Homo sapiens: one gene and its partners. The protein of the gene in region 7 purifies or fractionates together with the protein of the main gene of each other region. This does not show direct contact. Each region holds a gene or a part of one and is shown on either strand. Other genes may lie near its edges.

Evidence for each region.
Region 1: the proteins of PPM1G (region 7) and BASP1 fractionate together in Homo sapiens (co-fractionation; one large-scale study listed by BioGRID). This does not show direct contact.
Region 2: the proteins of PPM1G (region 7) and HADHA purify together in Homo sapiens (affinity purification with mass spectrometry; 2 studies listed by BioGRID and IntAct, with this or other methods). This does not show direct contact.
Region 3: the proteins of PPM1G (region 7) and MAP1S purify together in Homo sapiens (affinity purification with mass spectrometry; one large-scale study listed by BioGRID and IntAct). This does not show direct contact.
Region 4: the proteins of PPM1G (region 7) and ZNF577 purify together in Homo sapiens (co-immunoprecipitation; one large-scale study listed by IntAct). This does not show direct contact.
Region 5: the proteins of PPM1G (region 7) and TBC1D3G purify together in Homo sapiens (co-immunoprecipitation; one large-scale study listed by IntAct). This does not show direct contact.
Region 6: the proteins of PPM1G (region 7) and STMN2 fractionate together in Homo sapiens (co-fractionation; one large-scale study listed by BioGRID). This does not show direct contact.

What each region holds. Positions count from the first base shown.
Region 1 is NC_000005.10:17,273,131-17,276,630, reverse strand, and holds part of BASP1 (brain acid soluble protein 1), read right to left. Parts: intron 1,424-3,500; 5' UTR 1,415-1,423; coding exon 731-1,414; 3' UTR 1-730.
Region 2 is NC_000002.12:26,199,633-26,203,132, forward strand, and holds part of HADHA (trifunctional enzyme subunit alpha, mitochondrial precursor), read right to left. Parts: exon of another isoform or gene 2,688-3,500; coding exon of another isoform or gene 2,601-2,687; intron 1,689-2,600; coding exon 1,517-1,688; intron 1-1,516. UniProt on the Homo sapiens protein: Mitochondrial trifunctional enzyme catalyzes the last three of the four reactions of the mitochondrial beta-oxidation pathway.
Region 3 is NC_000019.10:17,722,480-17,725,979, reverse strand, and holds part of MAP1S (microtubule-associated protein 1S), read right to left. Parts: intron 1,855-3,500; coding exon 1,772-1,854; intron 932-1,771; coding exon 791-931; intron 152-790; coding exon 1-151. UniProt on the Homo sapiens protein: Microtubule-associated protein that mediates aggregation of mitochondria resulting in cell death and genomic destruction (MAGD). Plays a role in anchoring the microtubule organizing center to the centrosomes. Binds to DNA. Plays a role in apoptosis.
Region 4 is NC_000019.10:51,868,750-51,870,951, forward strand, and holds part of ZNF577 (zinc finger protein 577), read right to left. Parts: 3' UTR 1-2,202. UniProt on the Homo sapiens protein: May be involved in transcriptional regulation.
Region 5 is NC_000017.11:36,322,384-36,326,683, reverse strand, and holds the start of TBC1D3G (TBC1 domain family member 3G), read right to left. Parts: upstream 2,801-4,300; 5' UTR 2,702-2,800; intron 1,274-2,701; 5' UTR 1,273-1,273; coding exon 1,201-1,272; intron 1,039-1,200; coding exon 953-1,038; intron 1-952. UniProt on the Homo sapiens protein: Acts as a GTPase activating protein for RAB5. Does not act on RAB4 or RAB11.
Region 6 is NC_000008.11:79,617,617-79,621,116, reverse strand, and holds part of STMN2 (stathmin-2), read right to left. Parts: intron 176-3,500; exon of another isoform or gene 155-175; intron 1-154. UniProt on the Homo sapiens protein: Regulator of microtubule stability. When phosphorylated by MAPK8, stabilizes microtubules and consequently controls neurite length in cortical neurons.
Region 7 is NC_000002.12:27,389,092-27,392,591, forward strand, and holds part of PPM1G (protein phosphatase 1G), read right to left. Parts: intron 1-3,500.

The DNA of each region.
Region 1 (3,500 bases), on a different chromosome or scaffold from region 7:
TTCCACTGACCAATAAACAGAACTACAGGTGCACCCAACCACGGACATGCATTAACTCGTCATGAGAAATCTAGGTAGGCTAAGTAGGATGAGAGAATGTTTGTCACTCCCAAAAATATCTGGAGAGGAAGAATGGAGGATTGGCATTGAGATCCATGTGGACAAGCTAAGTGGGCTCTGTCTGAAAGCTGGCATTCATCCACAACATTAAAAAAATATCAAAATAAGAAAGGCTGTAAATTAAAAAGAAAACACAGAAAATACTGCTCTCATAAAGATCTGATTGCCTTGGCACAGGCCCTGTGGGCAGAATCAAACGCATCACTCCCAACTCCCATTGCAGAAGAAAAGCTATTCAACTCTCAGCGGTGGAGGAGTGCATGTGGCGGCAGTTTCAGGTACAAACGATGTACTGCACTTTCAGACGCGGATCTTGGAAATCCAGGACTTCTTGGTAAAGTTGACTGAAGGTATATTAGATATTTCCCCACAAAAATACTATTTGGATTCTCCCACCCCCTCCCTCCCTTGATGGGACAACATCCTGTATTTTTCCTTGGGCAATACATATCATTACTTCCAATTTGAAACAAGTTAGTATAGGAGAGAGAGAGAGGAGAGATAGGAGAGGAGAGAGAGAGAGGAGATAGAGAGAGAGATAGAGAGAGAGAGAGAGAGAGAGAGAGGAGATTGTTTTAAGTGGTATTGTTTTTCCTATAGGCTGTCCTTGTCACTCTTTCACGGTTACGGTTTGGTCGGAATTAGCTGCCGGGGCCTCCACCGGCTTGGGCTCTTCTGCAGAGGCTGCGGGGCCCTGGGCCTTGGGTGTGGAACTAGGCGCTTCCGTGGCTGCGGGGGTCTCCTTGGAAGAGGGGGCAGCCTCCGAGCTGCCGGGTTTTGAGTCTGAAGCTGGGGCCCCGTCACTTTTGGTCTCCTGGGCGGCAGGAGCTGCGGGCGCCTCAGTCTTTTTGGGTTCCCCTTCCTCCTTGCTGGGCTCCTCCCCGGCGGCAGGGGCCGCGCTCTCGGCCGGGGCCGCGGCGGCCTCAGCAGCTTTGGGGGCCTCGCCGCCCGCAGCGGGGCCGGGGGCCGCCTGCTCCTGCTCGGGCGCCTTCGGGGGCTCAGCCTTGGCCTCTGCCGCGCCCTCCGTCTTCTCGGGCTCCGCCTTCGGGGCCTCCTCCTTGGCAGCCGCCGCGTCCTTCTCGCCCTCCTTCTCCTCGGCCTTGCCCTCGGCGTCCTGGTCGGGCTTCTCCTTGCCCTCCTTGGCCTCGGCGGGCTCTGCGGCCGCCTGGGGCTCACTCTCCTTCGGGGTCCCCTCCTCTTCCGTCGCCGCGCCCTCGGCCTTCTTGTCTTTCTCCTTGGCTTTCTCGTCGTTCACATTGTAGCCCTTCTTCTTCTTGCTGAGCTTGCCTCCCATCTTGGAGTTCTGGAAGCAAACACAAAACAAAACAAAACGGCGGTTACTAGGCAAGTGTGGGGACCACAAAAAGCTGCATTTTGCAAAGCAAGGGGTTCTGGGCCTGCTGCACTGCACACCCCAAAGGGGTGGCATGGTAAACTATAGTTAGGCACAGTTAAATTCAATTTATTCATGTATTTATTTTTGAGACAGGGTCTCGCTATGTTACCCAGGCTGGAATGCCGTGGTGAGATCTCTTCTCACTGCAGCCTCCACCTCCTGGGCTCAGGGGATCCTCCCGCCTCAGCCTCCCACACAGCTGGGCCCACAGGTGTACCCACCACGCCCAAGTAATCAGTTAAATTATTATATTACACTGTTATTACACAATTAAAAGTTAAAAATTTTAAAAAGAATCAAAAACATTAAGGAGCTCAATTAAGTGAGTTCTGCAATAATTTTAAATGAGTTTTTAAAACAATGTGTCACGAAAAGAAATTAAGGAGCTCAGTTGTGGAGCTTCTAATCATAGCCAGTTGAGGGAATAATAAGCTGAGATCAAAGAATCAGTGATTAGAGGCAAAGTTTGTCAACCCTGGAGAGGAGGAGCGCTATCTGTTTTTCATCTGCAATCCCATGTCTGATGCAAACACCAAGCGTGGAACAGGCATGTGCAGCATGGCAGGGGCAGCCATCTTAGACCCAGGTTAGAGCTAGAGAAAGGCGTTGCAATTTTAAAATGCTTTCTGGAGAAACTGCACAGCTGTAATAAAGCACAAATCACAGATTTCTAGAAAATAATCTCAAACTACAAACTCTCTCTGCTACATATGTGTGTGTGTTATATCAGCAAACACATCTTCAAACACGTAAGGTAAACAGGATTCAGTCTATCTTCTTACCAAGCAGGGGCAGTTATGAAAAAGCCAGTGTCTCTTGCTGGCTGTGTCTGACATAAATTCATTTCAAGGTATTTTCAGCTTAAAAAAAGTAGTTCTATAGTAACATAAAATTGTTGTTCATTATCAATTTCCTGGTTAGAATTCAAACTATACATGCACGTTCAATGGTCATTAACAACTGTCTTAAGGCTGCCGCTTTCATTCTGGCACAAGAAACTCCATTTGTATTTGAATCTTGAAATTCTCTCCTCTGAAAACCAAGCATTAAACCAGATAAATAATAAATTATAAATTTATAAATAATAAATTTCATCCAGAACCATGGCCAGAGCTAAACAGACTCTTGGTGCATTTTTTTTCCTTCAAGTCCATTTTTCTGTCACCACACATCAGTGAAAATCCACTGAAATGTTGCTTTTGCAAAGAAAATGGTTGCTTTTCCTGGATGAAGCGTGGCAGAAATCACATTATACTATCCTCGTTAGTCCCATAAATGAGAAAAGCCCAGGAGAGAGCATCAGCCTTGCCCTGGACCCCAAGGGAGGTTAGAAAGAGCAGGGGGGAACCACCTGGTTTTGCCCAGGTCAGGTCCACTGGCAGAACTGTACACACTCCTTTGCCAGCTTTGCAAATATATACATCCCTTATTTAGAAAAGAAGGATTTGCTGTTTATTACTTCCTTGGAATCAAGATTCATGACAGTGAAATAACCTATATTTATCTTATTAAAAGTCGAGTTTTTGGTGGAAGAAAATGAATTCTTCAGTCAAAATTTTTCTCACCATTCTATATGCTAATTTCTAATCTGGAATGACTTCAGTAGTTGGGGGAAGAGAAAAGCAATAAACTGAAATTTGACTAAAATACTATTCATATTCTCAAGAAAGGTCTTTATGATGTTACCTAAGATTCTCTTACATGTCCTTTTTTTTTAGAAAAGGGGGTGGCAATTGGTCATAACCTGCTTCAGACAGGCTCTATTGGATTTAATTTTTGATTATTTCTCCCTCAAAAGTAGAAACAAACATACATGGCAAAAAATACAATTAAATATACTTTCATCCTATAAGCAATCACAGAGCAGTACATGAAAATATAAAGAAATAAACCGGATCAATATTTTAAATTATAGTTTATAACTCTTCCATTGAATTCTTAACTAGTCAGTATGCACGAATGGCCTATACCAAATATAATTTCA
Region 2 (3,500 bases), 1.2 Mb from region 7:
TCAACACAATGCAGCAGAAGTTACCCTGCCAGTTCCAGGCCTACCTAGACCTGTGGGGCCCGGTAGCCTCTTTTTTTATTTTTTAAATTATTTATCTTTTTTTCTTCCTGACAATAAACTTAGGAAGCTCAGTAGCTTCTGCTTTTGTTCTCTTGGAAGCCTGCAGCCACGCTACAAAGAAGTTGTGGTGAGACGACTAAGTGAGGATGGACTATGAGAGATGTGGGGGAAGCAGTGAGGTGCCCCAACCGAGCTTCCTGCGGAATGCAGCCCAGGAGTGACCCCAGCCTTGAAATCAATGGACTTAAGCACCACTGTCTCTGCAGAGCCCTGCCCAGATTGCAGAATTGTGAAAAGATAGTTGTAAACACAGCAGTAGAACACGGAGACATGAGGAAGATACTAGAGAGGACAACCGAAACGGGGTGGTCTAGAGATCATGCCTGTGGAAGATTGTCCAAGGAATGGGTTTTGTTAGCTCTATGGGCAATAAGAGAAGATAATGTTTGTTTGTTTGTTTATTTATTTATTTTGAGACGGAGTTTTGCTCTGTGGTACTCTTATTTTTTGTAATGAGCTCACTGCTCATTATATCCAGCATGTTGCCAAGTCAGAATCATTTCATGTTCACCTTTCAGTAACCCACATTCTGTTTATCCAACTGTAGACTAGCTTAGGCCTTGGTCCTACCTCATCCCTGAATTACTGCTATTACTCCTTCTCGGGGCTTACTCTTCCTACTCCCCACTTCAAGTACTTGTTTTGTTCATGTCAGCCCATCTCAAGAAGTGCCTATGGAGAACATTTGGGAGCTGGGCCAAAGCAGCATTTCCACAGAACAAGCATCTGGACGAACTGTCTTCCCTATTTCCTTTGCAGCCTTAGACCTGAAGAGGTTTGTTTTTGGCTTTCGGCTAACCAAAAAATCTCAAAGCATCTGGCTATACTCTGTGAGGTTATCTGTATGTTTGGGTGACAGAGCTCCTACATGAATAAGGTGAACGCACCCTCATTTTCTTCCTTTAGAATTTAGATTTGACCTTTATAACATATGCAGTGTGCATGAGCACACATAAAAACTTAACGTTTGATAACAAAAAGTCTTTTTTTTTTTTTTGGAGATGGAGTCTCGCTCTGTCACCCAGACTGGAGTGCAGTGGCGTGATCTCGGCTCACTGCAACCTCTGCCTCCCAGGTTCCAGTGATTCTCCTGCTTCAGCCTCCCAAATAGCTGGGACTACAGGTGTGTGCCACCATGCCCGGCTAATTTTTGTATTTTCTAGTAGAGATGGGGTTTCATCATATCGGCCAGTCTGGTCTCGAACTCCTTACCTCGTGATCCGCCCACCTCAGCCTCCCAAACTACTGGGATTATAGGCGTGAGCCACCATGCCCAGCCTTTGAATAGTCCTTTTTATAAAAGCAATCATGAGTTTCCTATAGCTCCTTTAAAAAAAAAATCTCTGTGTTTTCTGTTCACTACACTAGGATTCAAGTACAACAGCCCCTTGCTTACCGCTTCTACTTCCTTTAGCACTCTGTGCTTAAGACTAAGGTCCTCAAACACAGCTTCAATCACCATGTCGGCCTTTTCAAAACCTTGGTAATCAAGCTGCCCAGTCAAGTTGCTGAAGATGGAATCCCTTTCAAATGATGTTAGAGCTTTCTTCTTCACTTTGTCATTCAATCTAGAAAAAACACATTCCTAGTTAGATGGGAAGAAAAGGAAACTAACGTTTATTGAATGTCCATGGGCCAGAGCACACCTGTGTTTTTCACCAACTCTGTGAGGTAGTTATTCTATTACTCCCATTTTGAGGGAGACTTTCAAGTTGTTTAGTCTTAGAGGGACCTGTGGTCAAATAGCTTGATAAGGGAGGGTGCTAGCATTCAAAGACATGTTAACTCCCAAGTACACATTCTTTCTACCATAGAATGCCTCCAAATGCCCAATTTACGTAAACTAAATCACTCTTAAACCAGTTAAATTTGCCAAGAGGAGTAAATAACATGAATACTAGAATGGCAAAACAAAAGAGGAGTTCTGGTAATTCTCTACCTATGACAGGGGAAGCAGCCAAAGTGTGTCTGAGACCACATGGTTTATATTTGCTTATCGCAAATATATAATTTTATGTTATTCTGTAGTTGTAATCTTTTTTTTTTTTTATTTATTTTTTGAGACGGAGTCTCGCTCTGTTGCCCAGGCTGGAGTGCAGTGGCGTGATCTCAGCTCACTGCAACCTCTTGTCTCCTGGGTTCAAGCAATTCTCTGCCTCAGCCTCCTGAGTAGCTGGGATTACAGGCGCCCACCACCACGCCTGGCTAATTTTTTTTTTTTTTTTTTTAGTAGAGATGGGGTTTCACCATCTTGGCCAGGCTGGTCTTGAACTCCTGACCTCGTGTTCCATCCGCCTCAGCCTCCCAAAGTGTTGGGATTATAGGCGTGAGCCACCGCGCCCAGCCTGTGGTTGTAATCTTCTAAAGAACAGAGACCAAGCATTATTTCCTATATTCTCCATCTACTTCCCACTCATTACCTAGTAGCACATTGCACTGATTACATAAAATATTAACTCAAGGTTTCTTTTTTCCCATAGGGAGCAGAAAAGGATTCCTGTTATTCAGACATTCAACTGATTATTTTTCGTCGCCAAGGGAAACAGGTTCTCTTAGATTCCGTCTGACCACACTTTCAGAATAAATTACCTACAGTTTTCCTCTAAATGAAGAATGAAGCTAAACCCCATTCACTAATTTCCTTAACCAAAAGCAAAATTAAGGCCACAAGATAAATACAAAGGAGTATTCAAAGAAGGTCTTAAGGGCTGGGCATGGTGGCTCACATCTGTAATCCCAGCACTTTGGGAGGCTGCAGCAGGCGGATCACTTGAGGCCAGGAGTTCAAGACAAGCCTAACCAACATGGTGAAATCCCGTCTCTATAAGAAAAACAAAAATCAGCTGTGCATGGTGGCGCATGCCTGTAGTCTCAGCTATTCGTGAGGCTGAGGCATGAGAATCGCTTGAACCCGGGAGGCAGAGGTTGCAGTGAGCCAAGATTGCACCATTGTGCTCTAGCCTCGGTAATAGAGTGAGACTGTCTCAAAAGAAACAAAAACATCAAATAAGGTCTTAAAAGTATGGGCTCAAAGCTTTTGTTTTTGACAATCATGACAGCAGTCAGCAAACAAGATACTTGTCAGCATTCAAAACATTATCAGTTGCTCTAATTCTAATGCCTGATTAAACTATTCCCAAGAGAGGACAGGAACTATTGTCCCAAGTCAGCAGTGTGGTGAGCGGCACTCGCCAGAACCTGATGTTTCTAAGACGAAAAGGGGAACCCAGGACACTATTCAAGAGAGACTGGGGGAGGAAACTATTTTAGAGCAACAATTTCTTACTTTGGTGATGGTATGGAATGCTGTTTGGGATGCTTGCATGCTAGTTTCAGGGCACTGCTGCTATCTAGCACACATCATTTTTTTGGTCAGAATC
Region 3 (3,500 bases), on a different chromosome or scaffold from region 7:
CCGGGGGGTTCAGCCGCAGCTGGAGCCGGAGCGCCCCCTGAAGGCCAGGCACAGCGGGTGCCAGCTGAGCCCAGTCACCGAAGGTGGGGCAGGTGATGGTGAGTATGGGCGGCTGCACAGGTGGGGGCGTGGTGGCCAGGATGTCCCGGATCTGTATGGAGGAGGAGTGGTAAGGGACCACCTAGAGCCAGGCAACACCTAGCCCGGTGGGAAAACTGGGCGAGGACACCCTCATCCTTTCCCCCAGGGCCTGCTCCTCAGGGCCCTCCCGCCAAAACCCAACCCTCTCCAGCGCCACAAGGCTCTTTGATCTGGCCTCACCTCCTGTCTCTCCCTCCCCTTCAAATGCCTCCCTGCCCCAGGGCCTTTACACTCACCATTCTCTCCTCCCAGGGCACAGCTCCCTCCAAGGAGACTCTCCACGCCCCACCTGTCTACTGAACCTTTTCTCACCATTTTTAAGTGCCCCACTACAATGTGAAAGTGAGGTTTGCCATTTTGCCCATGTGTCCTACCCAGACTGCGGGCACCAGGAAGGACCCATTTGGCTCCATCCCTCATCAGGACTTTGGGACATCTGCTGACCTACAAACTCAGCTCACACCACACCCTTTCGCGGGCAATGGGACTGACCCCAGACAGCCAGGAGGCATGTGTCACCACTGCCATCCTACAGAGGATGGGGAGACCAGGCCATGGAAAACAGCAGGTCGCTGGTGCCACACAGCCTGATACACCCCAGTCAGGATTCAGAGCTGGGGAAGCAGGGGATGGCAAAGGGGTGGCTTACCTCTCTGTCCTTCAGGACCTGGAGGAAGTGGTGAGGCGAGAAGCCCCCTGTCTGTAGCAGCAGCTCCCCCGTCTCCTCCAGGCAGGGCCCAGCCAACACCAGTAGCTTGTGAGAGGCAGGGTCCAACAGAAGGTTCCGGAGCTGAGGGAGGGGGTGAACACTAAAGGACCCGTTCTGTGCAGTGACGTATCCAGCAGTCCTCTTTGGGGTAGCCTCGAGTCGATACATAACCACCCCTCTCCTGTCCTCACCCCACGACCAGCCCAGTGCTCAACTAGCTACGAAGGCAGTCTCCAGGTCTCCTGCTGGGCCCTGGAGCAACCCTAGCAAACTCCTATTCATCCTACAAAGCCCAGCTCTGATGTCCCTTCCTCCTGAAGGCACTACTTGCCCTTTCTGGGCTCTCTCTAGTCCACCTCTCCCTCCAGCCCAGCCCTGATGCCACAGGGCTGGGGGTGTCTGTGTCTCACTCTGTCTCTTAAAGACTGAGAGCCCCTCAAGGGAACAAAAGGGAAAAGTTGATCCAAGGAATCAACCTGTAAGAAGGTCTGTAGTGGGATGCCCCAGGGCTCTGTCTGGTTCATCTTCCGGATGTATAATTGGTAGAGTACAGATGGCCACAAGCTGGTTAATGTTAGTGAGTCGATTCAGACAACTCCTGGGGCCTAGCCGGAGGGAACCCACAGGAGGAAAACCTGTCTGCTCTGGCCTTCCCACCTCCAGACCCACGCTGTCCTGGGCCCTGAGCTGGGAGTGCTTACCCTCCCCTCCCTCCCAAAGTCCAGGCTTTTCTGCTCCCACCCCAGAGGAGGGAAGAAGCGGAGGCTGAAGCCACAGGGAAGGCTTCGTGGGCGAAGAAGTGTGGTGCCGGGTGTCTTGAGAGGATCTGGGGCAGCATGAAGACAAGGACACGAGACAGGAAGACAGAGAAGGCACGGGTCCCAGCAGCCCGCCCCCTCCAGGACGTCAGCCATTCCCTACCTCATCATACAGGGACTTGTCTGATGGGTTCAGGAGGACCAGGGTCTCCAGGTTGTCTCCACGGTGGTGCAGGCTCCGCTGGCCTGTGGGGGAATCAGGCCGTCCCGGAGTCAAATCCTGCCTCCCCGTGTGACCCTCAGGGAACATGAACCCCTCTGGGAACCCACCCAGGGATCATATGGAGATTAACAGGCGCACGGCAGAGCTGCAGGTCAGGACCAGGCAAGAAAGAGAAACTCAAACCACCCCAGCTGGCCTAAGAGAGGCAGTAACCAGAGGGCCCCATCGTGCGCAGGGCCTGGTTTGCAGCTGTCACCCCTGGGAGTGATGCCACCATTTTCTTCTTTTTTTTGTGAGACGGAGTCTCGCTCTGTCGCCCAGGCTGGAGGGCAGTGGTGCAATCTCTGCTCACTGCAAGCTCCGCTCCTCCTCCCGGGTTCACGCCATTCTCCTGCCTCAGCCTCCCGAGTAGCCAGGACTACAGGTGCCCGCCACCACACCCGGCTAAGTTTTTGTATTTTTAGTAGAGACAGGGTTTCACCGTGTAAGCCAGGATAGTCTCCATATCCTGACCTCGTGATCCGCCTGCCTCGGCCTCCCAAAGTGCTGGGATTACAGGCGTGAGCCACCGCGCCCGGCCTTTTTCTTTTCTTTTTTTTTGAGACGGAGTTTTGCTCTTGTTGCCCAGGCTGGCGTGCAACAGTGCAACCTGGGCTCACTGCAACCTCCGCCTCCTGGGTTCAAGCAATTCTCCTGCCTCAGCCTCCCGAGTAGCTGGGATTACAGGCACACGCCACCACGCCCCATTAATTTTTTCAATTTTTAGTAGAGACGGGGTTTTAACATGTGGGTCAGGCTGGTCTCAAACTCCTGACCTCAGGTGATCCGCCTGCCTCGGCCTCCCAAAGTGCTGGGATTACAGACTTGACCCACTGCACCCATCCGGCCACATTTATTTTTCAGACAGAGAGCCAGAGCTCGAGGAGGGCCAATGAGGGCGAACGTGGACGAGGGTACATCCGGAGCAAAGGTCCTGAGGCAGGACTCAGCTAGGGGTGGGGCAGCATAAGGGCCGGGGCTGAAGTAGGGCTGTTTCTGGGATCCTGACCCTGCTCTGTCCCCCAGGGCCCGTATGTGTTTTAAACATCAGTACTGTGAGAGGGGGGTGGCAAGGAGCCAGAGCCGGGGTGGGGGCCGGTGAGGGCCAACCCGGACCAGGGTACAGCACCAGCCAAGGCCCCTGAGGCAGGACTGAACTGTGAACAAGGCTGAGTCTTGAGAGGCAGAGACCCTCCAGTGTTGCCAGCCCTTATCACATTTAACTTTCTTTCCTTTCTTTCCTTCTTTTCCCTTTCTCTCTCTCTCGCCCTTATCACATTTAGCTTTCTCTTTCCTTTCTCTCTCTCTCTCCCTCCCTCTCCCCCTCCCTCCCTCCCTCCCTCTCTCTCTCTCTCTTTTTTGAGATGGAATCTCCCTCTATTGCCCAGGCTGAAGTGTAGTGGCACGATCTCAGCTCACTGCAACCTCTGCCTCCTGAGTTCAAGCAATTCTCCAACCTCAGTCTCCCAAGTAGCTGGGGTTATAGGCGCTTGCCACCACAACCAGCTAATTTTTGTATTTTTAGTAGAGATGGGGTGTCACCATACTGGTCAGGCTGGTCTCGAACTCCTGACCTCAGGTGATCCACCCACCTCAGCCTTCCAAAGTGCTGGGATTATAGGTGTGAGCC
Region 4 (2,202 bases), on a different chromosome or scaffold from region 7:
GTAGAAAAAGGAAGACATAAGAAACTCTATTTTGATCTGTACTAAGAGAAATTATTCTGCCTTGAGATGCTGTTAATCTGTAACCCTAGCCTCAACCCTGTGCTCGCAGAAACATGTGCTGTGTTGACTCAAGGTTTACTAGATTTAGGGCTGTGCAGGATGTGCTTTGTTAAAATGTGTTTGCAGGCAGTATGCTTGGTAAAAGTCATCACCATTCTCCAGTCTCGAGTACCCAGGGACACAATGCACTGCGGAAGGCCGCAGGGACCTCTGCCCAAGAAAGCCTGGGTATCGTCCAAGGTTTCTCCCCACTGAGACAGCCTGAGATATGGCCTCGTGGGAAGGGAAAGACCTGACCGTCCCCAAGCCCGATACCCATAAAGGGTCTGTGCTGAGGAGGATTAGTGAAAGAGGAAGGCCTCTTTGCAGTTGAGATAAGAGGAAGGCATCTGTCTCTTGCTCGTCCCTGGGAATGGAATGTCTTGGTGTGAAACCCAATCGTACATTCTATTTGCTGAGATAGGAGAAAACCACCTTATGGCTGGATGTGAGACATGCTGGCAGCGATACTGTTCTTTACTGCACTGAGATATTTGTGTAAAGTCAAACATAAATCTGGCCTATGTGCACATCGAGGCACAGCACCTTTCCTTAAACTTATTTATGACACAGAGTCCTTCGCTCATGTTTCCTGCTGACCCTCTCCCCACCATTACCCTATAGTCCTGCCACATCCCCCTCTCCGAGATGGTAGAGATAGTGATCAACAAATGCTGAGGGAACTCAGAGACCAGTGCCGGTGCGGGTCCTCCATATGCTGAGCACCGGTCCCCTGGGGCCACTGTTCTTTCTCTACTTTGTCTCTGTGTCTTATTTCTTATTTCTTTTCTCAGTCTCTCGTCCCCCCTGACGAGAAACACCCACAGGTGTGGACGGGCTGGACCCCTTCAATGTGGAGAAAAATGGCCAAAGGCAGATGTGTGCCAGAAACCCCTACAGGGGCTAAACAGTCAAGACACACCAGCCGCTAACTAGAATAAGTTGTTAGGCCTCCTAACTGTACTTCCCATAAACCTCAACTGCCCAGCACAGGTGTCTCAAGCACTGCCCATGGCCAAACTACACTTCCTAGGAAGCTCAGCAGCCCTGTTCAAAAGCCTCAGTTCCCAGAGAAGGCAAAGAGGGGCTAAACACCGGGTAGACTACACTGCACAAATTCAGCTGAGCTTGCTTCTCCCTCTCAGGGAACCTGGTGCTGATTGCTGGTAATTGCCTCCTTCTGGTCCCTCCCTGGGAGGATTAACATCCTAGGGGCATTGGGTCCAGTGCGTAGACTGAGCTTCATCTGCCCCTTGTTCAGGTGGGGGGAACCCATCAGTAAATTATAGTTTTTATAATCCACTTGATTCATATGGGACATTTATAGCAGCTATTTCTAACATCCTTTTCTGCTATAAGTGTGCCACTTCTGGGTCTCTACTGAGTTTTCTTCATGTTATGGGGTTATATTTTCCTGCTTCTTTGCACACCTGGGTAAGTTTGTATTGGATGCCAGACATGGTCAATTACTGACTGGTAGATTGCTTTCTATTTCTTTATTAGTCTCTGTTTGGAAAATTGCTAACTTACTTGGAAAGTATGGCCTTTTCATGGCTTGCATGTATGCTTTGTGAGGAGAGTTCGAGGCAGCCTTTACTGTAGAGCAAATCTGAGCCACCCACAGAGGCAATACTCCTTACTTAAGGTCCACTGTGATTCTCCAAATGTTAGGAGGCGTTTCCACTCCAGCTGGTGGAAATGCTTGTGTGTAATCCAAGGATTTTTCTGCGTGTTCATTTCTTCCTGTTCTTCCTCCAGCCTAGGGGGGGTTTCTCACATACATATGCTGATTATGACTCAAAAGGCTTGTGGGGGAAACTCTACAGAACTCTCAATTCTTGAGTGCAGCTCTTCTCCAATAATCCAATTCATGAATTTGGGCCACCTTGAATTCCTCAAACCCTAAACTCTGTCTCAATTCAGAGAGATGGCTGGGATCTGCTTGGGTTTCTCCTCCCAATCCTGCAGACTGGAAACTTTCTCCAGGCACTAAGCTGGGGCAATCATAAGGCTCATCTCATTGTTTCCTTTCTGTCATGGAAAGCTGTCCTAAGCCCTTTACTTCTCAATGTCTGATGAAGTTCATTCATATATTTTGTGCAT
Region 5 (4,300 bases), on a different chromosome or scaffold from region 7:
GATGGGGGCCGCCCAGGGTGGGCGACCGGGCCCTGACAGGAGTCCCTCAGGGAGTGACCACATCCCCCCGCCAGGGTCAAGGGAGCCTGCCCTGAGACCTGCCCGGTGTACTCTGGCTGCACCAGGGGCCCACCCCACTTGACAGCCCCAAGGCCCTTGCAGGTTCTGACCTCCCAGCATCCACCTGCCTCTCCCTGCACCCGAGCCACACACCCTGCGTTTCAGAAGTGGCACCGCTCGTCAGCTCCCTCCCGCCCTACCTCCCCAGGGATCCTCTGTCTCTCCATCCTGTGATCCCTGAGGGATGGGCTCCTGGCTGGGCTCCTCTTACCTGGCCCCAGATCCCTTCCCAGCACCAGACCCAGGTCTTTAGCCGCGAGCCCTGCTGCCTCCCTGGCCTCACCGTGAGATGCCCAGAACGGGGCCCTGCCCATCTTCTCCCCCGTTCTCCTAGGGCTACAGCCCCCATTGTCACCATGCCTTTTCCCCTCACGGGACAGTGAGGGCTGTAGCTCTAGGGGAATGGGGGAGAACAGGGGCAGGTGGGCCCTCAGAGACCTGCTGGACAACAGCCCTGAGGCTGGGCCAGGCGTCCCCTCACCCTGTGGCCATAACCCTTGCATCTCACCGGGGTTGTCTCCAAGTAGACAGGGCCAGACCCTCAGGCTGCCCCGCTCCTCTTGTGCTCACTTGCCGACAGAACTGCTGAGCGCCCAGGGGCCTGACCTAGCCCAGTCTCCATTCCCACCGGCTCCCTAGATGGGCCCCACACCTCTGGCCTAACAACCTCGGGCTGGACCTGCAGGGGAGTCAGGGAGGAGTTCTGTCCCTGGAAAGGAGGTTGACCCGACCTGGTGAGACATGTCCTGCGTCAGAAAGGCCTTTCTAAAAGCAAACCCATCCCTGAGCTGAGACAGGTGCTTTAGGGGTGAGGGGAGTGCAGAGGACTCACTGTACAATCCCCAAATGATCGACGTTGTTGTTGTAGCTTCGAAAAGGCTTAGGCCCCTTGTCCTCTGGCAGCCCAGCTCGGTGTCCCTGTAGCCCAGAGGGAGCCTTGGTGAGGGGTCCAAGGTAAAGGGTGCAAGGGCCTGGGGGCATTGGCCACCCGTCCCTGCCCTGTGCTCCTAGGGAGCCCAGGACCCTTTGACCAGGGCACACTGGAAGAGGCCTCCCTCCAAGAAGCAGACCGACTTGTACCTTTTCGTATTTCATAATGATGTCCTCTCGCTCTTGTGCCCACCAACTGCCCGCGACCTCTACCACGTCCATCCTGTGAGACAGAATTGTCTAAAGGTCACACTGTACGCGGCGGCTTCGGAGAACACCTGAACCGCTCTCGCCGGGCTCCCAGATGCTGGCTGGCTGCGTAACCCCCATTCCACCGCCGCCCCCAGGGAAAAAGGGGCCAGACCCAGTGGCCCACAGCTGCTCCAGTCTCTGGAGTCTCAAGTCCCAAGCAGGGGTGGGCATCTTCCCAAGGACTTGAGTACAGTGGGACCTAGACAGAGAATCCTGTTGTCCCCCAATGCCATGAAATGGGGACACACCGGCCCCAGCAGGTTGAATGGTTTCCACCTGCCAAGGGTGAAGGGCCCATGATGGGCTATTCCAGGGATGTGGAGGCAGACTGGGGTCAGCGACCAGAGGTCTCTGTGCAATCGGCCTCCTGGGATGCTCAGGGCCTCAGCGATGCCCAGTTTCCTACAGGGAACAAGATCTCTCCCGACTGCTCGGTTCTACTCCGCTCATCACTTTGGCTACCGTGGCTCTTCAGTCTGAACAGTGAAGCCACTTTAGGAATAACGCCTGTTGAGCAGGAGGGTGTTGGGTTTGGGGGATGAGGAAGATCTATTGTACGCATGGAAACCACGTCTCTCGCGGAGGGACTGTGGAGTCCACCATTCTGAGCCGTCCCAACAGGAGGAGGCTTCATTTTCCTGGGTCACTGAGGAAGAACAGTGGGTCCTTGGTCCTGGAGAACAGCTGGATGGACCGTCCCTCCTGGGAATACTCGAGGCAAAAGGAGGGCGAGGCCTCAAGAGGACCACGCAGAGCAAGAAATACCTGGGGAGAACCCTAGTGCCCGGACCCCTTTGAACACAAGGGAAGATAGTCTCCCCTCAGCCAGCCCTCCAGGGCTCCTTCATTTTCCACAGCTGCCCAAGGGCAGCAGGCTCCCCCGGACAAGGGACCATGTGTGTTCAGTGGGGCCCACAGCGACCATCAGGACCCAGCTTAGGGCACAGAGGTGTTCTGAGGACCGTCAGTGGATCTGTACCAGTGGCTCTATACCAGTGGCTCTGCCAGGACCAGGCTCTGCCCCATCGGGATGGGAAACCTGGGCAGATTTGGGATCTAGGGCAGGGAGGTCACAGGGTTCAGGCCTGAATTCCAGCACAGCACACGGCAGGGCTGAGAGCAAAACTCAGGGTCATGTCCGGATTCCCAGGCCGGTTACTGCCTCTCTGACCCCAGACGTCTCATCTGTCGAATGGGGACATTTGGGAACAGCACCCACTCTACGAAGCCACCATGGAGACGAAAGAGCCAATCGTCTACACGGGCAGTGTAGAACGGGCGCCTGGTGAGTGCTCAGGGATGACCCTCCTCGGTAGCTGCCCCACAGAGGCCAACACCGCCCGCACCGTAGCCACTGCCCCCAAGTCCGCCTGGAGGGAAGAGAGCAGGTCACGCTCACCTGATTCTGATGAATCAGCTGGCCTGGGTCATGCCTCTCAGGGAGAAAACCTTTGAGTCCACAGAGCTGCTCACAGATACCACTGCCTGTGTGTAACTGCTGTAGACCACTGAGGCAGACCAGAGAGCAGATAGGTGCTAAGCACCAGTGACATTCTGAGGTCATGGCACGAATCACAGTGGGGCCTTGCCCGGGTCAGCAGCACCCAGAGTCAGGGTCCTCCGCTGCCTGAGGCGTCAACATGCCTGCCTGCAATGTGTTTGTGCACGTGCGTGCACATGTGTATGTGGGTAAACACATCTGTGCACGTGTGTGCTGCTTCTCTGGCCAGGCCCGGCTGCCCCACTCATGTGTGCACCCAGTTCCTCATCACTGTCACCCCCGAGGCCCAGGGCCAGCATCAGAGCATCCATGGCTGCTCCCTAACCTCAGCCCTCCCTGCCCAGGGTGGTCCTGGGATACACATAGCGGTGGAGGGAAGTGACTGCTGCTGTTGGATCTCAGAATACAAAAGCTAGTACTATTACCTAATGGTCTTTTTAGTGTCTCTAATGGTATCGCTTTTTCATTTCTGATATTTTAACTGGGTATTTCTCTCCATGACCCTTGGATATTCTAGCTAGAGGATCCTGTGGGGAAAGTGCCGGGCACACAGTAGGGGCTCACTCTTCTAGACATGTTATCTAAAACCTGGTTCATCTGTCCTTCCACACAGGGCCTAGGGGATGCCAAATTCCAGGGGCCAGAAAGAGCTTGGGATAAAAAGAAACTTCAAGGGGACGGCTTTGACCTGGGCTGAGTCTGCCTGTGCCATCCAACTGGAGTCTCAAGTCCTGAGGCAGGACGTCCAGATGCCCCAGTGCAGGGTCCTCCTGATCAACACCTGCTCCCCTGTACTCATTAGCAACCTCACCCACCCTACTCTCAAAGCACACTTGGCTCTCGTATCCAGGAGCTCTGCATCTGTAGATTCAGCAACAGCAGATGGAAAATATTCAGAAAATAAATTGGACGGTTATGTTTCTATTGAACATGTGCAGAGTTTGTTCTTGTCATTATTCCCTAAAGAATCCAGTATCACGACCATTTATGTAGCATCTGCATTGTATTACACATCATGAATAATCCAGAGATGGTCTAATGTCTACGGGAGGATGTGCATAGCTGATATGTAAATACTAGGCCATGTTATGTCAGAGACTTGAGGATCCATGGATTTTGGCATCCCCGGGGACCCTAGAACTAATCCATGGATACCAAGGGATGACTGTATAAACTCACTCAGGAAGGCTTCTCATTGGAGGAAGGTCCCAGTTCAGGACACACAGGGACATCTCCCTGGACTACTGTCCATTCATCCATCCATTCATCCATTGTCTCCCCCCACCCCCCCATCTCGGACTGTCCCAGTGACAGCCCTAGCAAGAAGAGACAAGAAACAAGTTCACGTTGTCCAGTTTTGAGGTAATGGAAGAAGTTGCACCAGTATGAGAATAGTGGGTCAGTTTTCTACAGGATGCAGAAAGCATATCGGGCAGCCTCGGGGTGCGGAAAGGAGCCTGGCCTCTCTAGCAGCCACACAGGCCTGCAGTAGGATGG
Region 6 (3,500 bases), on a different chromosome or scaffold from region 7:
CTCTTCCTTCCATGCAGCACCAGCAGCACTGGTGGAGAAGGGCAGAGCTGATGGGGACTTAGACTCTGACCTCTTGACGCCTTGTTGCAGAGCTCCACAGAGGACGTAACTCACATGCTGTCCTGGCCTGCTGCTTGGGGACCCTACAGGTCACTGCTGTTTTAGGTCTACTCCAAGTGTGGTTCTGAATCAGCCTCATCAGCACCACCTGGGAGCTTGTTAGAAATGCAAATCCATGGGACCTGCTTCAGACCTAATAGAGTGAGAACCTCTGGGGGTGGAGGCTAGCTCCTCAAACGCTGCTGATTCTCAGTAAAATTTGGGAAGCATTTTAATTAAAGAATTCTCTGGCCAGATTGGTTGATGGACTCATTAAATATTTAAATTTTTCAGCCTTTTGGTGGATCTTGGTACTTCCTAGTTGATGTTACTAGTGTATCATTATGTACTATCTTGTAATATTGTAGGGCAGTTTAACAAAATTGTTAAGATGGTGAAATTGTGAGATGGTGACTTCCATTTATAGTTATAAATTACCATTATTACTATTGAACTTTCTGACATGTACAGGATCTTTTTTTCTGCAAAAGACTAAATCCACCAAGGGTGAGGAACATTTTTATTTTTGTTCTCATAATACCTGGCACAGGCTTCAGAACAAAGTTGGTGCTCCAATCTATTTTACTTTAGTTAGTGACACTGACTATCAATGACTTTAAACTGAAGACAAATATGCCTCGTGTATGACTATTCTCACTGTGCATGTTTTATTACAGGACAGTGGAGGGAGTGCTAAACCTTATTTTGCATGAATGTGTATATATGTATGAAATAGGCACATACATGATATATAACATATTTATATATTACATATAAATATTTTGATAGGTAAATAATATACACAACTTTATTATATGTAATATATATATTATATGTTATAATATATATATAATATATATTAGACCTGTGTTCCGAGTCTGCCTCTGAGGCTTGCCACTGAATAAATTATTTGAGCTTAAATTTACCAATCTTTAAATAAGACAACTTGTATAGTATGCCCATCTCAGAGGGATTATATGAAGATTCAAAAGGATGAAGCAGGTGAATGTTTTCTAAAAATGACAAGGTCCCATATAGATAGATCATGCGATTTAATTTTTCTTTTGAACATTTTTTAGTCTTCTATGCTTGCCTGCTCCTTTTAAAAAACTATATAAGAAAAAAATCATCAGAAATATAATAAAAAGATAATTTTTAAAGTGACAAGAGTGCAGGATCATGTAATATGTCATTAAAAGACTAGAACAACTTTGGTAATTTTTCATGTGTTTGAATATTTATTATGAGAAGGGTGCTAATTGGAATTTCTCAGATAAAGCTGTAAGACTTAAATAATAACAATAGATATTTTTGTTGGAAATAAAAAGTAACTCTGCATTAATAAAAATAATTATGTTCTGAAGCAGAGTTCCCAGGGAGGCTGCAATAAGTCTATCCTAAAAGTGCCTGAGATGATTAATGTTCTTCCCGAGAGTCTGGAAATGATAACAGTACCATCTTGATGGGATTTTCTGGTCTCAGTTTTGTAACAGTCAATATATTATAAGTTGGGGTTGTTTCGTGTGAGTTAGGTTGCTCCTCACTAGGAAGCCCAAACTGGGAAACTATTATTATAATAGGTTTACTGTGAGCAGCTTTGTTAATGGAAGTTAAACTTTATGGCTGCATTTCATAAGGAAAAAAAACTTCCAAAGACAGAGTAGAATGCTAATAAAAATTTAATTTACACTTTAACATGCTCTCTTGTAAAAGTATTTGTGGGACTAGGTTTAGATAAATTTCACTCAATTCTCTTTATCCTGATATAAAGACATACAACTAAAAGATGGACAGATTTATTATCCTGATGATCTATTGTTATATTGGGTACTTGTACTAATGGTTAATGTGCGAACTCCAACATCCAAAATACAATTATTCCAGAAGAATAACTGCTAAATGGGCACTCTTGCAGGCGTTGCTTTACAATCTTTGTAAAAAAAAAAAAATCATTCAGTCCTAGGCAATATTTTTGCCCTATAAAAATAAATTATTTTAAATGTGCTCTATGAGAACTGTAATTATCTATTTCTTGCCATAAAATAAATTTTGAAACCCATAACTTTCCAGAGTATTAAATATTTTACTCTGGAGGTCAACAACAAGTGAGAACAAACTTAAAATATTTTTGTTATGGTTTTATAGTATAATATGTGGCTCCTACTCTAAGTACAATTCCTAAAGAAGCTATATTTCCACATGACCAGCAAAATGATGGCTGAAATGCATTAATTAACCTTTACACTCATATAAAAGTGTTTTGTGAGAACAAATGTACACAAATGTTATCTTTAATCATGACTAATAAAAATGGATATTATAAACACAAGCTTTACTACTGCAAATGTCTCCTTGACAAATGACAGGGCCTGATTCCTTTATTAAAAGATAATTAAAAATGTTTCACAAGGGATTCAAAACCTTCCTACAGTTCTCTCCTGCCTGCCTGCCTGCTTTGATGGTAATATGAAGAGAATCTTGAAATAACATCTAATAGTTATATTAAATGTGAATGTGTAAATTTATTTTATTCAACAAAATGTTAAAACTAAATATCTCTGGCCTATGGAAGTAGTTAAGGAGGCATTTTGAAATGTGCTAACCATGATGGGACTGAGGAGATTAAGTCAATGTTATTTCTGGAACTGGTCATCAGAGTGTGTTCCCACCAGAAATCGATGCTGTGCTGAGCCTGCAGAACGCCATGTGTCTCATACGTTACAACCCACACGGCCTCATAGCTCTCTTTCTCCCAAAGCCTAAATCATGGCAATTATTTGAATAAGCCCCAGGTAAGCTATTAAAACTAGGCATCAATTTGGAAGTATTTTCTCTTCAAGGTGAGTCTGTGATCAGAAAGGAGAAGACCATCTCTGGTCTGTTTAAATAAAATGGTGATATCACAGGTGTGACCTCTGCAATGGGAGCTCACCTCTAACATGGAACAGATATGAGACTAGCAGCAATCGGTGAAAGATGGATTCCGAAGCCAGATGGCCTGGGCCCAAATTCTGGATCTGACTAACTGTGTGACCTTGAGTAAGATACTTCAACTTTCTGTGCCTCAGTTTCCATATCTGTAATAGAACCTACTTAGGATTATTAAGTGATTAACACAGTTAATATGTGGAAAGTTCTTAGAACAATGCCTTGCATGTTATATGTGCTATACAAGGGTTAAATCAATCAATAAAAGTTACTTCCCATAGAGAATCTGGAATTTATGAATACACCAGAAAAACAGTTGAAAGAAAGCACCATTGCGGGAAAATGTTTGAGTAAAGAAATAGGAAGACTTATTGGCTCGAGGCCCTCAAGTTTAGATTTTTGTCATCTCCAAATGAGGTTATACAGAGAGCCCTGCCCGACTGCCAGAATTAAACATTTAAAACATGAATTAC
Region 7 (3,500 bases):
TCTGGTCAGCTACCTTATGGTGTGCCTCAATTTTATCCTCTGTGATGTGGAATTACAATATCCACCACATCCACATCATCACAGAACTGTTGTAATGATGCAAAACACATAAAAGCCCTTTGTAAACTGGAATTTGCTACATAAAAATATATATATATATACACACACACATACACATATATGTATATTCTGCTCTGAAATTTAGCACCCATTTCACATTTTTCTTTTTTGTTCTTTTTCTCAAAGAGGACCACCCACAATAAAGATTCGTCTTACACCTTGAGGTCTCAGTCCTGAGAACTATCGCACAATTACCCTCTCCTTCACTTCTTGGTGAGGCTTGGGATCTATATTATGATTTGGAACTGTTTCACCTTCCCTAAACACTTTAATTTGCCCCCTTTACATGTCTGCTCATAACCTTTACCCACACCTTTGCTTCTCTCTATCCCTTACTGAGACAGAGCCAAGTATTTCAACATGGTCTCTTAGAAATCTAGAAAAACTCACCCAACCTTGTATAACCCCACCAACTGATTTATGCCTGAATCAGAACTACTAAGTTTGCTAGTCATAAAATGTTATGAGATTGGCTAGGTGCGATGGCTCACACCTGTAATCCCAGCGCTCTGGGAAGGTAGGCAGGAGGACTGATTGAGATCAGGAGTTGGAGACCAGCCTAGGCAACATAGCAAGACCCCGCCTCTACAAAAAAATTTTAAAGTTAGCCAGGCATAGCAGCATGCACCTGCAGTCAGTCCTAACTACTCGGAACACTGAGGCAAGAGGACCACCTGAGCCCAGGAGGTGGAGGCTGCAGAAAGCTATGATGCACCACTGCACTCCAGCCTGGGTGACAGAGGGAGACCCCATCTCTAAAACAAAACAAAGTTATAGGATCACATTGACTGTGGTAATTACTTCATTTCAGCATCTTGTTTTCTTTTTTTTTTGAGATGGAGTCTCCCAGGCTGGAGTAGAGTGGCGCGATCTAGGCTCACCATATCCTCCACTTTCCAGGTTCAAGCAATTCTCCTGCCTCAGTCTCCTGAGTGGCTGAAATTACAGTGGGCACCTGCCACCACGCCCAGCCAATTTTTGTATTTTCAGTAGAGACGGGGCTTCACCATGTTGCCCAGGCTCTTCTCAAACTCCTGAGCTCAAGTGATCTGCCCAGCTCGGCCTCCCAAAACGCTGGGATTACAGGCGTGAGCCATTGCAACTGGCCAAACACAGAAATTATCCTCTCTTCCTAGATTAACATTTTTTCTTAAACTCCTGATCTCAAATCCTTCTCCTTCAAGGTCTTACTACACAGAGAATGTAATAACCTTAACAGCAATCCAAATAGCCGTTTTGGCAATGGCTCATGCATGTAATCTCAACATTTTGGGAGGTCAAGGCAGGAGGACTGCTTGAGGCCAGGAGTTCAAGCCTGGGCAACATAGTGAGACCTCATCTCAACAACAACAACAACATCCGTAAACAGCCATTCTGCAGACTTCATTTCCCCTAGCCATTATGTCAGATTAAACAGTACAAACCATGTCAGTTTTTTTTTTATTTTTCAATGTTTATTTTAGAATCACAGAATACATGTGTAAGTTTGTTAGAAAGGTATACTGTGTGATGCTGAGGTTTGGGGTATGACTGAACCCGTTTCCCAGGTGCTGGGTATAGTATCAAATAGGTAGTTTTTCAGCTGTTCCTCTGCCACACAACCCCCACCCCCACCCTGCCGCACCACCACCTCTAGTAGACCCATGTCTATTGTTGCCATCTTTACATCCATGTGTACTTGATGTTCAGCTCCCACTCTCACTGCGTGAGAACACGCAGTATTTGGTTTTCTGTTTCTGTGTTAGTTTGCTTAGGATAATGCCCTCCAGCTACATTCATGTTGTTGCAAAGACATTATTTCATTATTTTTAATGGGTGCATAGTATTCCATGATGGCTATGTACCATATTTTCTTTTCTTTTCTAGTCCGCCACTGATGGGCACATGAGTTGATTCAATGTTTTTGCTATTGTGAATGGTGCCACAATGAACATACAGGTACATATGTTCTTTTGGCAGAATGATTTATTTTCCTTTGGCCGTATATCCAGCCATCAGATTGCTGGGTCTAATGGTAGTTCCACTCTTAGTTCTCTGAGAAATCTCCAAACTGACTGTGCCTACGCTAAATTAATTTACACCTTCACCAACAGTGTACAAGTGTCTGCTTTCCTCTGCAGCCTCACCAACGTTTCTCATTTTTTGACATTTTAACAAAAGCTGTTCTGACTGGTGTGAGATGGTATCTCTTTGTGGTTCTAATTTGCATTTGTCTGATGATTAGAAATGGGCGTTTTTTCATGTTTGTGGGCCACATGTACGTCTTTTGAGAAGTATCTGTTCATGTCCTTTGCCCACTTTTTAAGGGGGTTATTTGCTTTTTGCTTGTTAGGTTCCTTATAGATTTTGGATATTAGACTTTTGTTGGATGTATACTTTGTGAATATTTTCTCCCATTCTATAGGTTGTTTACCCCCTTGATAGTTTCTCTTGCTGCATGTCACTTTTCTTGAAAGATCTCTTGGATTCTGTGTAGTTCTATACCTCTGACTGCCTGTTTCTACAGGATGTTCTTTTTTTCTTTCTTTTTTTTTTTTTTGAGACAGAGTCTAGCTCTGTTGCCAGGGTGGAGTGCAGTGGCGCGATCTCGGCTCATCACAACCTCTGCCTCTCGGGTTCAAGCAATTCTCCTGCCTCAGCCTCCTGAGTAGCTGGGATAACAGGCACGCGCCGCCACGCCCAGCTAATTTTTGTATTTTTAGTAGAGACGGGGTTTCACCATGTTGGCCAGGATGGTCTCGATCTCCTGGACCTCGTGATCTGCCCACCTTGGCCTCCCAAAGTGCTGGGATTACGGGTGTGAGCCACTGCACCCGGCCAGGATGTTCTTTCTCTCTATACCTCAAACTTAACACATGTAATCAGGAAATCAGCAGTCTGCAAAAAAAAAAAAATCAAGAGCTTCCCCTACAGGTCTTATTTCTGTAAATGGAATCTTAACTCTCCCAGACAACACTTAATACCAGAGTCATGCTTAACTTCCTGGCTGTCTTCCACCATCCATCACTGAGTCCTGCATGCAGTCCTTCATCATGTTGTTGTTCCTGGATTACTTTGTTTTGTTGGTTTGTTTTGTTTTTTTTTTTTTTTTTTTTTTTTGAGAGAGAGAATGTCTCCCTGTCACCCAGGCTGGAGTACAGTGGCATGATCTCAGCTTACTACAACCTCCGCAGCCCAGGTTCAAGTGATTCTCATGCCTCAGCCTCCCAAGTAGCCGGGATTACAGGTGTGTGCCACCATGACTGGCTAGTTTTTATATTTTTAGTAGACACGGGGTTTCACCATGTTGCCCAGGCTGGTCTCAAACTCCCGACCTCAGGTGATCCTCCCGCCTCAGCCTCCCAAAGTGCTGAGATTTAGGCATGAGCCACTACGCCAGC